Regions from separate parts of the Homo sapiens genome. Here regions 1 and 3 are each linked to region 2. Evidence: fine-mapped expression QTL. A gene starts in region 2. Each other region holds a variant in brackets. All regions are shown on one strand. Distances are from middle to middle.

What was found. PIP is the estimated chance that this variant, and not a neighbour inherited with it, causes the effect.
Region 1: its variant is the best candidate, but not a certain one, in a credible set for the expression of ZMIZ1 in whole blood (TOPMed, PIP 0.67).
Region 3: its variant is the best candidate, but not a certain one, in a credible set for the expression of ZMIZ1 in cerebellar hemisphere (GTEx, PIP 0.69).

The regions. Positions count from the first base shown.
Region 1 is chr10:79,161,428-79,165,658 of GRCh38, forward strand. ZMIZ1 (zinc finger MIZ-type containing 1) reads left to right here. Exons shown (of 25, transcript NM_020338.4): 4 at 626-706. Among named protein-coding and RNA genes, the nearest start is that of ZMIZ1, 95 kb to the left of the region's middle. RefSeq lists an enhancer at 873-1,544. The variant C/T (reference allele first, on the strand shown) is at 1,773.
Region 2 is chr10:79,067,187-79,071,417 of GRCh38, forward strand. ZMIZ1 (zinc finger MIZ-type containing 1) reads left to right here and starts at 1,780. Exons shown (of 25, transcript NM_020338.4): 1 at 1,780-2,084. It overlaps ZMIZ1-AS1 (ZMIZ1 antisense RNA 1), which reads right to left and starts at 262. Exons shown (of 10, transcript NR_024431.2): 1 at 202-262. RefSeq lists silencers at 1-30, 71-120, 221-430, 1,231-1,300, 1,561-2,540, enhancers at 694-1,539, 2,741-2,790 and a cis regulatory region at 1,413-2,098.
Region 3 is chr10:79,001,335-79,005,565 of GRCh38, forward strand. All of the region lies in intron 5 of ZMIZ1-AS1 (ZMIZ1 antisense RNA 1), which reads right to left. Among named protein-coding and RNA genes, the nearest start is that of ZMIZ1-AS1, 64 kb to the right of the region's middle. The variant C/T (reference allele first, on the strand shown) is at 2,291.

The sequences.
Region 1 (4,231 bases), 94 kb after region 2:
GACCCCAAGTCCTCCACTGGGCCAGGCACTTTTCTCTATCTTGGAGTCTTCACATATGCTGTTCCCTCTGCCTGGAATGCTGTTTGCTGCATCTTGGTCTGCCTCTCCCTGGCTTGTTGCTCAACTTCACTTCTCCAGAGAGGCCACCTGGGACCTTGAGTCTCTGCTGTGTGGCTCCTGGACTCATTGTTTGTTTCTGGCAAGCACTGCTTTTACTTTTGTATCATTTGATTCTTTGCTCTCGTCTGAGTCTCCGCAAGGGTAGGGATCACTATCACATCAGCATGCTTGCTGAATGTTTGTTGAATGAATGAGTGAATGCGAAGTGCCTTTGTCATTGCATCTCCCTGGATTCTCCCGGTGACCTTGAGACATACTTTGACCCCACTTTGACACGTGAGGAAATTGAACCCCAGAGAGTCTGAGAGCATATCTGTAATCACATAACCAGTAACTGGCAGGTGTGGGGAGTCAGGGGCCTGTTTATGCCAGGGCACCCCATCATGTCCCTTCAGAGTCCCCCTCTGTCAGATGGGGATGATATGGTGGCAGTGGGCAGTGGCCTCATGGTCAGTGCCGGGCCTCTACTGTGGGTAGACCCGCTGACCTCCCACTTTCATTGCAGCAGGATGGAGCTGGAGTGAGGTGGAGGGGCCGCAAGCTGCTGACCGGCGTGTGGAACACTGGTGGTTTGCAGATCACTGAGGTAGGTGTGCCACGGGGCTGGCGGGAGGTGGCTGGGTCGGACGCAGGTGAGTCCTCATGAGGGCAGGTGCTAGCCCTAGCACGCTGGACCTTTGACTCGGGCCTCAGCCCTGAGGGGCAGGAGCGGGCACAAGCCACCTTTGCTGGGACCTCATCATGCCCCCAATGGGCTGTCCCTCTACCTGGCACCCAGGGACCTCTTGGCCTGGCCTTTCTCTAGAGCAGCTGCTAGGGGTGGGGGCTGCAGGTCTGCCCGGGGAGAGGGGCAGGTCTGGCCACCTGGTCTTGGCACAGCAGCCCTGTCTGCACCACTCTAAACCCTGTGGAGTATGGGCAGCCCCACCAAAGGAGGCCTGGGTGAGCAGGAGCATGTCGGCTGAAATGGGTGCAGGGCTACCCACCCCTTCTGCCCACTCTCACAAACATGCCGAGATGGATACACTGGGCTCTGGGGTCAGACCACCTGGATTCAAATCCTGACTGGCATGCATGGTTACTCTGTGCCTCTGTTTACCCATCTATCAAATGGGAATGAGATGGCGGTGCCTGCTCCACTCTCGCAGTGAGGAGACTACACACCTGGCACACAGCAAGGACTAGGGACATGTCAGTCCTTTTCCTCAAGGGTGCTAGGACCCACCTTTCTCCCCACACACCTCAGTTTCCACCACCCTGCTCCCCCTGAGGACCCACCAGTGCCAGGATGGACACGAACTGGACCCCCCGCCTGATAAGGGGGGCAGGGCACCTTGAGGAGCAACTGAGAGCAGCTGGGGCCAGCAGGTCCTAAGGTCGGGGCCAGCAGGTCCTGAGGTCAAGCCCAGCTCTGTCCCGTGCCCCAGCATTTCTCATCATGGGGTGGCATTTCAGGGTTGATCTCACTTGGCCCTGTGCCCGAGGGTGACCTGTGTAATCCCTGTTTACTTGGCAACTCTCAACCTAGAGATGAGAGACTTCACAAAAATCCTTACTTGGCCCAGAGCCCTTTGTCCCAAGGCGTCGTGGTGCTGGGGCAGCCCGGGAGGGGGGAGTCTTCGCCCTGGTGTGGAGCTGTCTCCTAACATCCC[C/T]TGCTGCCCTCAGCGTCCCTCCTGGAGCTTAGCGCTTCCAGGGGCCTAGGGGCAGGGCCAGGCGAGCCTCAGTCAAGCTCCGACATTGGAGAGCCAGGCTCCATCTCCGTTCCTGCTGCAGGAAATCCCAGCTGTCTGCTGATTGGCTGCATGACCTTGGGCCAGTCCCTTCCCTTGTGTGAGAGCCAGCTTTCTCATCTGAAAATGAGGCTGATTATACTGACATTGCTGACAGAGCTGCTGTGAGGATGCTTAGAAGCCATGAATATTTTTAAATGTCACAGTCTCGTGAGCATCTGCTGTGTGTGTGTCAGGCACTATGCTCCTTTAATACCTTTTTACCCCCACAAGAATCCCACGGGGAGGTTTGTCTAATTCATTCTCCAGAGGCTCGGCGTGGTTAGGAAACCCACAGAGCCATCAGTGCTGGAATGGGGATTTGAACCGAGGTCCATCAGGATTAACCAGTGCATAAGGCCTTAGAGGCCAGGGGCGGGGCCCCAGGACAAGCATGGGAGCTGCTTGGGGAAAGCCACTCCATTTCTGCCCTGCAGCCTTTGCCCAGCCCGCCAAGTCCGCTGCTCTCTGGAGCCAGAGGGTGGCCCTCAGGCTGGTGGCCTGCCTCTCCCGATGGGGCCTGCCTGCAACTCGATAAGGCTAGGGGAACCCCCTGCTAATTGTCTGGTAACCTTTGAAATTCTCCTTCACGGTGGGTTCTCTTTTCGGATGTTTTTCAAGGTAATTCATTCCTTTTCCATAAATTGCCAGTGGCGGAGCATTAGGCAGCTGGTAATTAATCATAGGAGCAGCTTCGAGTTGATTCTTTGAAAAAGAAAAAAAAAATGAGGAAGAGAAAGCCTTGGTGGAAAAAGAAAAGAAAACCACTCTAAGGCGAGGGTGGTAATCAATACCTTGGTGTCCTAGACACGGCTGGGGGTGGGGACGGTGAACATGCGGCCTTCTCTCCTTCTTCCCAGGGCTGGCCCACTGTCAGCACCAACAGCGGCAGCGTGGGGCTCCGCTCTTGACCATTGGCTCCCTGTATGGCTTTGAGAAGTTGCTGCCTTTCCCTGGACTCAGCTTTGCCACCTGTAAAATGGGTGAAGGGCAGCTGTTAAACTGAAAAGAACATTGAATGAACCATTGTTCACTACCACGTCTTAGTCCCTGGCACAGAGCAGTGGCCCCATTGATATTCTGTTAATTGAGTGAGTGAGTGAGTGAGTGAGTGAGTGAGTGATTCTCATGCGTCTCTAGGTAGCTGTCTTGAGTGAAGGAGGTGGTACTGGCTATAGGATATTGTGACTGTAGCTCTGTTATAATTTGGAGTGACAGTCAGGGTGATGGGCCAGTTCTGTCACTTTCCAAGCTAATGATGAAAGGACAGTCTTGCTTGGTGAACTCCGGCCAGGAGACCTCAGGCCCCTTAGTGGCAACCATGCTATCTCTTCAGCATCTTCCAATTCAACTTTCCAAGAGTCTGAGCTATCTGGAGATTTTATGTTAAAAAGCTGCCTCCTGCAGAGGTGGTGAGTTCCTCATCACTAAACTGTGTGCAAGCTGGGGTTGCGGCTGTATGGGCCACTTGGACAGTGGATTTTGGGGCTTGGAGCATCCCTGAGTCTGGGAGAGAGCATGAGGCTCTCCAGGATGGTTACTGGGGAGGCTGCACTGATCGGGAGGAAGCCTGTTCCCTCCAGAGCCCCTTCCCAAAGGTCCCAGGGGAGGACTGGACGAGGATACAGGCGCTGAGGCACCAGTGCCTGCTCCCCGCTGACTGGCCCCATTGCATGGACATAGGGGCACTGAGCAGGGTTGAGGGAAAGAGCCACACTCCTTATATCAGAGGGTGTCTAACAGGTTGTGGGTTGGGTAGGGGGGTGGGGAGGTACAGAAAGCCCTTGTCTGGGAGGTGGGGGCCTCAGACCTAGGTCTGATATGCTGGTCTGTCTGGTGTAACCTCAGCAGCTCCCTTTCCCTTTCTGGGATTTGGGCCACGATCCTTCAGGAGAGGGCAGCAGATGGGGAGTGTGTTCTCCAAGCCTTCCTCCCCTGCCTGGGTGAGCTCAGTTTGGGAGCCAGAGCTGGGCCTGACAAAGCCGGTTTCCTCTTAGCAGCTTCTCTCATTCTGGCCCTAATGTGGGACCAGGGTTCCTTGCCCAGAGACCCAGGATGACAGTGCACCCTAGCCTGAGTAGTGGCTCTGGGAGACTCAGAGCTTCCAGAGGGAGGGAGGGAGGAGGGTGTGTGGCTGTGTGCTTGTGTGTAAGTGTGTGCGTAGTAGCGTGTGCCTGTGTATGGGTGTGATTGTTCAGCAGGACGTGAGGCTGTGTGAATATTCATGAGTATTCAAGGAAAGGGGAGACCCCTCCCTCCCGTGTGTGTCAGGACCTCCAGGTGCACACTGGCTCCACATTCAGACTGGCCTGGGGGGCCCTGACCACAGTGGAGCTGACTGA
Region 2 (4,231 bases):
GGCCGCCTCCGGGTGCCCGCCCCCCGGCGGTGTCATTGTTCTCTGACGTCACGCCTCAGCCCCGCCCCTCTCCCCCCACCCTTCCTCCCCCACCTCCGGCTCCCCGCGCCCCCGACCCTGCAGCCTCCGAAGCCCCGGCCGTGCAAGGCTCCCCCCGCAGCCCGGCCGGGGCTGCGCCCCCTTGCGCTCTCCCCAACTTGCCTTTGTTATTCCAGCTCCCTTCCTCGCCTCGCCTCCGACACGGTGGCAGCCTGCAAAACGTGGAGCGCGGAGTCACTGCCACACCTGGAATCCGAAGCGGGCTCCGCCGGCTCCCGGCCGAAGCCGCCCCCGCCTGCCGGGGAGGGGAGCGCGTGCGTGGGCGGCGCGTGTGTGTCCAAAGAGGGCTGCGCGGGCGCCAATTATGATTGGGACTGGGGGTGCCGAAAATCAGGGGTGGGGGGCCTCGAGGAAGGGGTATGGAAGAGGAAGTGGGAGAGGAGGGCGTGTGTTTGTGTGTGTACGTTAACGTGAGGATTTAGTGCCCAGGGGAACGTTTCGTGTTTTGTTTTTTGATTGTATGTGGGGTTGTGTACAGCGATGTGTGTGTGTAACTGCGTGTCTCTGAGCGTGCCTGCTGTGGCCGTGTAAGCGGGCATCTTTGTGAGGGAAAGTAAGCGAGTGTGTGGGGGCGCGTTTGTGGTTTGGGGGGGAGCGTGTTTGCAATGCTGAGGGAGCGAACGTGTGTGCCGTTCTTGTAGGAGTTTCCGTGAGAGTGGCAGTGGACGTGAGCCAAAGTGGGCGCGTAGTTGGATGCTCTCGGGGGGGGGGGGTGGGTCGGCTAGGGGAACTCCCGCGAGTGGGTGCACCCAACTGCGCCTCGTGAGTACCTTAGCTCTCCGCTATCTCTGGCAGTGCCCAGTCCGGGGCAGAGGGCCAGGCCCCAGCCTAGCAGCTCCCACGCAGCCCGCGCGCACAGCGCCCCGGGCGCTCCGCGCCGGGCCTAGGGGAATCCACGCGTCTCTGGACTGTGCTAGGTGCCGCGGATCAACTGTGGCCACCACACCCCCGCTCCCCCACAGCTGTCGGGGGGCCGCGCTCTAGTCTCCCTCAAAGTCACCCTTGGTGGTGGTGGTCCTCTTCCCACCCCAACCACCAGTCCCCGGGCTGTAGGAACAATTCCAAAGTCAACCCCAGGGGAAGGCTTTGGAGGTCCAGTTACCAACTCGCTTACCCCAATTCGGGTACCTGACAGCGCCCGGGGCCACGAGTGCACTCCAGGCGGGGGCGTGCCAGCGCGGGGCAGGGGCTCTCGGGTGAGCAGTGTGATTTTGGCTTCCTCCCCAAGGTGGTCCCTACCTAGGCTCAGCATTTGTTCCCCTCTCCAAACTTACTGGGGCTGGGGCCTGCAGGGGGGCTGGGGGCTGCAGGGGGCGTCAGGGAGTAGCGGAGGGAGTAGGGCAAGGAGAGAGGTGAGTGGACTGGTGGCGTAGCGGGGAACCAGGAGCCAGGAGAAGAAAAGCTGGGAGAGCGCCGAGACCGAGGAGCGAGGAAGAGAGGAAGAGAAAGGAAAGGAAAGGCGAGGGAGAGAACGAGGAGAGGCGAAAAGGAAAGGGGAAAGAGAGCGCAGAGCGCGAGCCAAGCCGAGCGCCGGCAGCGGCGGCGGCGCGGCGCGGCGCTCCACTCCGGCCTGACTCCGCACCGGCTTTTGCGGGCGGCCGGCGGCGCGGGGCCCTTTGGAAATAGAATAGCCAATGTAATCTGACACTTCAACTTGCTCGGCTCCGGGCGAGTTGATTCACTTACTCACCCCCTAACGCCGAGTTCCTTTTCACTGTCTGTGGACATTAAAAAAGCGAGCGGCGGCGGCGGGCGCCGGGGAGAGCGGGCGGCCGGGCGGCAGGCGGGCGAGCAGCGATCGGGCGGCCGAGCGAGCGAGCAACGCCGGCGCAGCGCGGTGACCCCAGCCCCAGCCGGCGCGGAGCAGGAGCCGGAGCCGAGCGGATCTCGGCGCCCTCGCTGCGCTCCTCCCGGCCCGAGCCTGCCCTACCCGGCGGTGGCGGCGGCGCGTCCTCCAGCGGCGGCAGCGGCGCTCGCAGCGCCCGGTAAGTTTGGGGCCAGAGCCAGGCGCCCGCTGGCTCCGGGGCTACCTCCCGCTCCCCGGGGACTCTCGGGGTGCAAGCGTGGGGATTGGGTGCTGGGGTTTTTCCCTTAAAGTGTCCCCCGGAGCGGGGCGACCGGCCGGCGGCGCGGGCTCCGCTCCGCTCTCCTTGGCGGCCGGGGGCCGAGGCCCGGCGGCCGGCGAGCTCCCGGCTGCGCGGAGCCGGCTTGGGCTGCGCGTGGGGGCCGGGTTTGTCAGGGTGTGCGGGGCGTAAGTGTGGTCGTGCGCGCGCGGACCCGGTGCCCGCCTCCTGCCGGCGCGCCTCCAGCCCTCGCTCCCTACACCCGGGGGCCGGGCAGGACCGGGAATCGGAGGAGGGAGGGAAGGACCGCCTCGGTCTCCTTCGCCTCCTCTGGGGAGATGCGAAGTTGTGCGCCTGTGTGTGTACAGGAACCGCTGGGGAAAGCGCTGGATTTCAGGATGGCAAGGGGTGGTGGTGTTAACTTGTGCGTCTGAATTTCCAGGGAAAACATACACTTTTGTAAATGGGAGGTGGGGGCGCGGTTAAGTTGTTTGTGTGGGAATTGCCCGGGGAAAGCTGGCGCGCGGTACAAACGAGAAACGCGGAGGTGTGTGTGCAGGGTTTTCTCCCAGGGCTTCGCAAGCCAGAGGGGCGCTCAGGCCAGTGCCTGGACGGGGCTGCCCCGGCCAGGAGGGGAGCCCAGGGGGAAGATGTGCGTGTGTGTGCGCGCGCGCGTTGCAAATACGAAAGTAATTTCCCCGTGTTCTTTCTTCCTCTCCGTCTCCGGCGGCGGTGGCCCCGGGGGAGTGGGAGGCCAGCCGGGGCGGAGGTTGGGGGGCCGGGGCTGGAGCCGGGGTCGGGGGGGGGAGGCGGGTTCTGGAAGCTTGCTTCACATTCCTGGCGTCTGGGCTGGGGAAAAAACAGTGGGGAGCGCGGCCTCGGCGTCTAGGGCGCGGGCAGCGGGCGCGCGTCGCCCCCTCGCTGGGGACATCTGTCCAGGAAGCCGGCCGGGCGGGGATAGGGCGCGGTGCGGAGGGCAGGCTCCCCGCCCTGGAGCGGTGGGGGCGCGGGCGAGGGGCGGCCGCCTTCCCGGCCATTGTGCGCCAGCAGATTTTCACGGGAGACTGCCCCGGAGCCGCCGGAGAAGGCCGGGAGCCGGCCTCAGCCCCGGGTTTAAAAGACACTCCAGGAATGTAAACAACCCGGGCGGGAGGGCGGGCGGACGGGAGCGCGCCAGGGCAGCCGGTCCGGGCCCCCCACCCCTCCCCGGGGACAGCCGGTCGGCACTGCCGCCCAGCCCTACCCCTCTACCTGCAGCAAACTTTTTCCTTCTCTGCCTTCCCTTCCCACCTCGTCCCTCCAGCAGGTCACAGAGCGAGGGCCGCTCCCAGGTGGGCCAAGGGTGCTTGGTACCCTTGCCTGACCGGGGAGGCCTGACGGCCGGGTCCCTGCTTCGGTGCCCGGAGCCCCGGCTGCGCCTGCCCGGGAGCCGTCAGCTTCCTGGGTAGGCAGTGCCCGAGTAACTGGGGCTTTGAGCCTGCCCGCCTGCCTCCCTCCCTCCCTCCCTCCCGCTGCTCCTTCCCCCGCGCGCTCTCCCCCTTCTCCTCTCCCCTGACTGCTTTTCCAATGCCCTGACATGAGGGAGGAAGATTTAACTTGGCAGCCCAAACAAATGTTCTCTCAGAGGTCCTCCAAGAAGCTGGCGGCTGGGCTGGCGGGGTGAGGGCACGGCTCGGCCAGCCTTTCCCTCCTCTCTGCTCTGCCACGGACATTTGGAGCCCTCTGGGTGGACAGCCCAGGGCATGGGAGAGTAGGGCCCAGCCCCAAAGATTTAAAAGGGCAGTGGGCGGCCGCCTGTGGAAGCCCCTGGCTCCGCGCCGGGTGCAGAGCCGCTCCGAGCTGCCTCCTGGTGCCAAGGGTTTTCTGAAGGATTTTCTTGAGCAACAGTTTGTCTCCCTGCTGCAACCTGGGAACCGGGCCTGGTAGACCAGAGGGTTAACCAGTGCCGACTCCTCCTCCCTGGTGGGTGTGAGGACAGGCTGGTTACACAGGGCAGGGCAGGAGGCCAGAGGCTGTTCCCAGAGGTGCCTGGGTTTGCTTATTACTGTTTTTGAAGGTACAGATAAAGA
Region 3 (4,231 bases), 66 kb before region 2:
GGTCCTCTGCTGCTGCTGTCCCAGAGTGCCTTTCCTGCACATCATGTGGCATGAACACTCACTCATCCTTCAGCCTAGTTGTCACTTCCTCCAGGAAGCCTGCTCTGATTACCACCACTGCCCCCTGTCATTTTTCCAGTTCAAAAACATGCTCAGGGATTTGGACTTGAATACCACATGAGTCAGTGAGCAATTGTAAGCAAGGAAGGAGAATTGTTTCAATTGTGATGTAGGAAGGTCCCTTCAGGGAAGAAGTGGTCAGAGGGAAGAGCAACTGGGTAGAGAAAAGCAGCCAAGAGGTGATGTCAGTGTCCCCAGCAGGCAGGAGGTGGCAGTGGCTGGCGGTGGGGTGGGAGCAGTGGAGTGGGAAGGAAGTGGGCAGAACCAGAACCAAGGGGTGGGTAGGAGGCAGGACTGCCCAGAAGAATTAGGGCACCCAAGAGGCAGGACTGCATGGTGGCTGGTAAAATTAGAGCACCTGAAAGACAAGAAGTGTCCAGCAGATCCCCAGAATCTTGTCTGGGGGACTGGGTGGGTGGCATACCCAGGGAGAGGTGAGAGTTCCCTAAGATGGCTGTGGAAACTGATTATAAATGGTACAGTCCTACTCAAACAGTATTTCCTTGGCATTTTGCTTTAAAGATTTCCTTTGCACCTGTAATTCAGCACTTTGGGTGGCTGAGGCGGGAGGATCAGTTGAGTCCAGGAGTTCAAGACCAGCCTGAGCAACATAGCAAGACCTAATCTCTACAAAAAGTCAAAAAAATTAGCTGGGCATGGTGATGCATGCCTGTAGTCCCAGCTCCTTGGGAGGCTGAGGTGGGAGGATTGCTTGAGCCTGGGAGATTGAGGCTGCAGTGAGTTTGATAACACCACTGCACTCAGCCTGGGTGACAGAGACCCTGTCTCAAGAAAAAGGAAAAAAAAAAAGGAAAGAAAGAAAGAAAGAAAGAAAGAAAAAAGATTTCTATTGCACACAGTTCAGCCAAGAATTCCCAGGGCAGCTTCCAGAGACCCTGTGCCCACAGGTCCCTCTGTGACCTCCCCAGTCCTCCCTATCTCTCAGTCAAGGCTTTCCTCATCCTCCTCCAGAAAAGAGGTTGACCCTCCACCCTTCAGGAACCTCTTAGCTTTTTCTCCTCCACTGGCTCCTCTCAGCTGCACAATCAGTTGCCCCGCAGGGAGTGTCCTTGTGACTGGGTATTACAGTGGCTAAGAAAAGCCCTGGGGCCAAGCCACGGAGGCTCAACCCTGGCTTTGTGACTTACAAGCTGATGCCATGAGTGATTTGCTAACCTTTCTGCGCCTCAGTTTCCTCATCTTTGAGATGGGGATGTTAATAATATCAGCTACCCCACTGGTGGGGTTGAGGATCAAATGAGTCACTAACAGGCCACAGGTAGCCACCTAGCCCAGTCCCTGGCCTACAGTAGGGGTTTGGGGAATAGCAGCAAGGATTGCTGTTATTTCTATGATGCCTGGGGTTCCCCCCTTGCCTGGAGAAGGGGAGACAGCAAGTCAAGTCACTAAGTCCAGCCCACATTCAAGGGGAGGCATGTCAAAGAATACACAGGCATATTTCAAAAGCCTCAAGTTTGGCACCTACGTGTGATGAAATGTGACTTAATGGTTATTAGCAATGGTGCAGCTGGCCGGGTACAGCAGCTCACGCCTGTAATCCCAGCACTTTGGGAGGCCGAGGCGGGTAGATCACCTGAGGTCAGGAGTTTGAGATCAGCGTGGCCAACATAGTGAAACCCCGTCTCTACTAAAAGTACAAAAATCAGCCAGGCATTGTGGCAGGGGCCTGTAATCCCAGCTACTCAGGAGGCTGAGGCAGGAGAATTGCTTGAACCCAGGAGGCGGAGGCTGCAGTGAGCCGAGATCGTGCCATTTCACTCCAGCCTGGGCAACAGAGCGAGACTCCTTCTCAAAAAAAAAAAAAAAAAAAAAAAAAAAAGCATTGGTGGCAGCCGAGAGTTGAGTTTGAGCTGCCTCATTCCAGTAGTATCTCGTGCTGATGCTGGGCCATGTGGATGAGCAGCGGCAGGGACCTCTGTTATTCCAGCAACCCTATGCCCTGCCCTTTGTGGGACCCAAAGCTGCCTCCTCCCAAGCCTGTGGGCTCAAGGGACTGCTGCCAGCCGCCCCCGCTGTCTGCTGCCATCCTGTGCCCCCACTCTGAGTCTGCGAGGTGGCCTTACCCGCCAGCTGCCTGGTGACTGTGAAGAATGACAGGCTCCTCCTTCAAGGGTGCGCACTGGCCCTTATCACAAGAGAGTGATGTCTG[C/T]GGCACTGAGCCGGGTGATCCTGCCTGCCCGTTCAGCACTCTGCAGAGGGCAGGGCGGCCGCAAGAGACAGAAATTCCATTTGACAAACTCTCCATGTGGCTGGGCAGCCAGACAGGAGCAGAATGAAATCAAAAGGGAGGAAAATTGGCCTAGCTTCCTAACCAGGTGCTGAGTGGATGCACCAGGCTTCAGGAGAGGGAATCAAAGAGGGAGAAAATTGGTGGCCTTGGTCATAAAGGGGATTGATTACCCAGGGACCTGTCACACCCACCAAGGTCAGCAGAGTGGCCTTGGCTGGCCCTGTTTCCTGGAAGACAGGGTGCCTTTGGCAACTTCAATTCACCCGGGTTCAACTAGCTAATAAGTGTGCTGGGTCAGGAGGAGGGTGGTCAAGGTTTTCCAATTATGAGCCCTTGAAGAGAGGGCTTCAGGGCCTGAGAAGGTCTGAACATGACCCCTGTCCATGGGCGGTGGAGCGGGGCTAGAGAGGAGCATGCCTTGGCTTTGCACTCAGATGAAACTGAGTTTAATGACTACCTCTGGTGGGTAAGTCCCTTCCCCTCGCTGAGACTTTGTTTCCCATCTGTCAAATGGGAGTGTCGATACTTTGCTTTATTAAGAGCTTGCTTTGTGCCGGGCACTTTGTGACCTACTTTATGGGTATGAACTTATGTCATCAGAACAGTAATCCTAAGAAGCAGCTGCTATTATTATTATGATTGGCATTTTACAGAGGAGGAAATTCAGGCTCAGGAAATTTAATGTTCCCGGGTCCTGCTATAGGTTGAGCACCAGATCTATGCATGGGTGACTGGCTGGTATGCAAACCTTTGGCCACTGTGCTGTCTGTCATCAAGCCAGGCGCATCCACTTAGGGTTTGTAAGGATTCATGGAGATGTGCTAATGACAGCAAACTAGGAGCCCAGTCTACGTGCTGAAACCAGAATAAGAACTTTCCATGCGTTGACTCATTTGTTCCTCACAATAAACCTATGCAGTAGGTACGACTGTAACCTGCACTTACAGGTGAGGAAATTCAGGCACAAAAAGGTCAAGTCTCTTGTCTAAGTCACCAAATTTATATATGGCAGAGATGGGAATTGAGCCCAGGAGGCTGGCTCCAGAGTCCTTCACTTAACCTTATGCAAAGGCATAGCAAGAGCCTGGCCTGGGGTCCAGCACACAGCACATAGTAGGGCTCGGGGAGGGGCAACCTCAGCTCTTTTCCACCTGGGGCAGCCCTTCTCCCTAAAAGAAACCTAAATGCAGTGAACATGGAGGAAGCCCACGTGCCCACTACAAGTCTGGCTCTGGGAGATTTAGGGATGTCCCCCACCGCCCCAGCCTGGGCTTCCAGCCTGGGCAGGGAATCAGGCTGACTTGGGAATGTCCCTAGTTCAGGGAAGACCAACATAGAGCTGGGAGTGGGGTTGCCCAATGTGCAGGGGCTTCTGGGAAAAGAACAGCAAAAGGGCAGGTAGGATGTGGGAGGTGGAGATGTGTCCTGAGAAAGGGAGAGGGCAGTCCTGACGAGCACCCTGCCTTGAAGAGCTAACAGGTGTGAGGCTGCCAGACAGGTGAGCTGTAGCAGCCCACAGCTGGCAGATGGAACGACTCTCAGACCTCCCACTCCCAAAAGTCTCATGATGCCTGGCTGGAGCCCGGGGGTCACAGGGTGCAGCCAGCAGGCAGGGAGTGTGCTCTCTAGATGCATAAGCTCAGGAGAGCGGCAGGAAGGAGCAGCCAGCTGCACTCCAGCCAATGCTCGGCTCAGGCCATCCCTGCCCCCGGCCAGACAGGAGCCCTGGCCTCGATTCTGAGGGGCTCCACCAGCTTTTGCTCCCATCCTCCAGCCACCTGGGACCCCACCCCTTAAATCACTACCCCAGATCATTAAACTAGGAGTCCGTAATGCTGACACTCCCTCAGAGAGCATTTA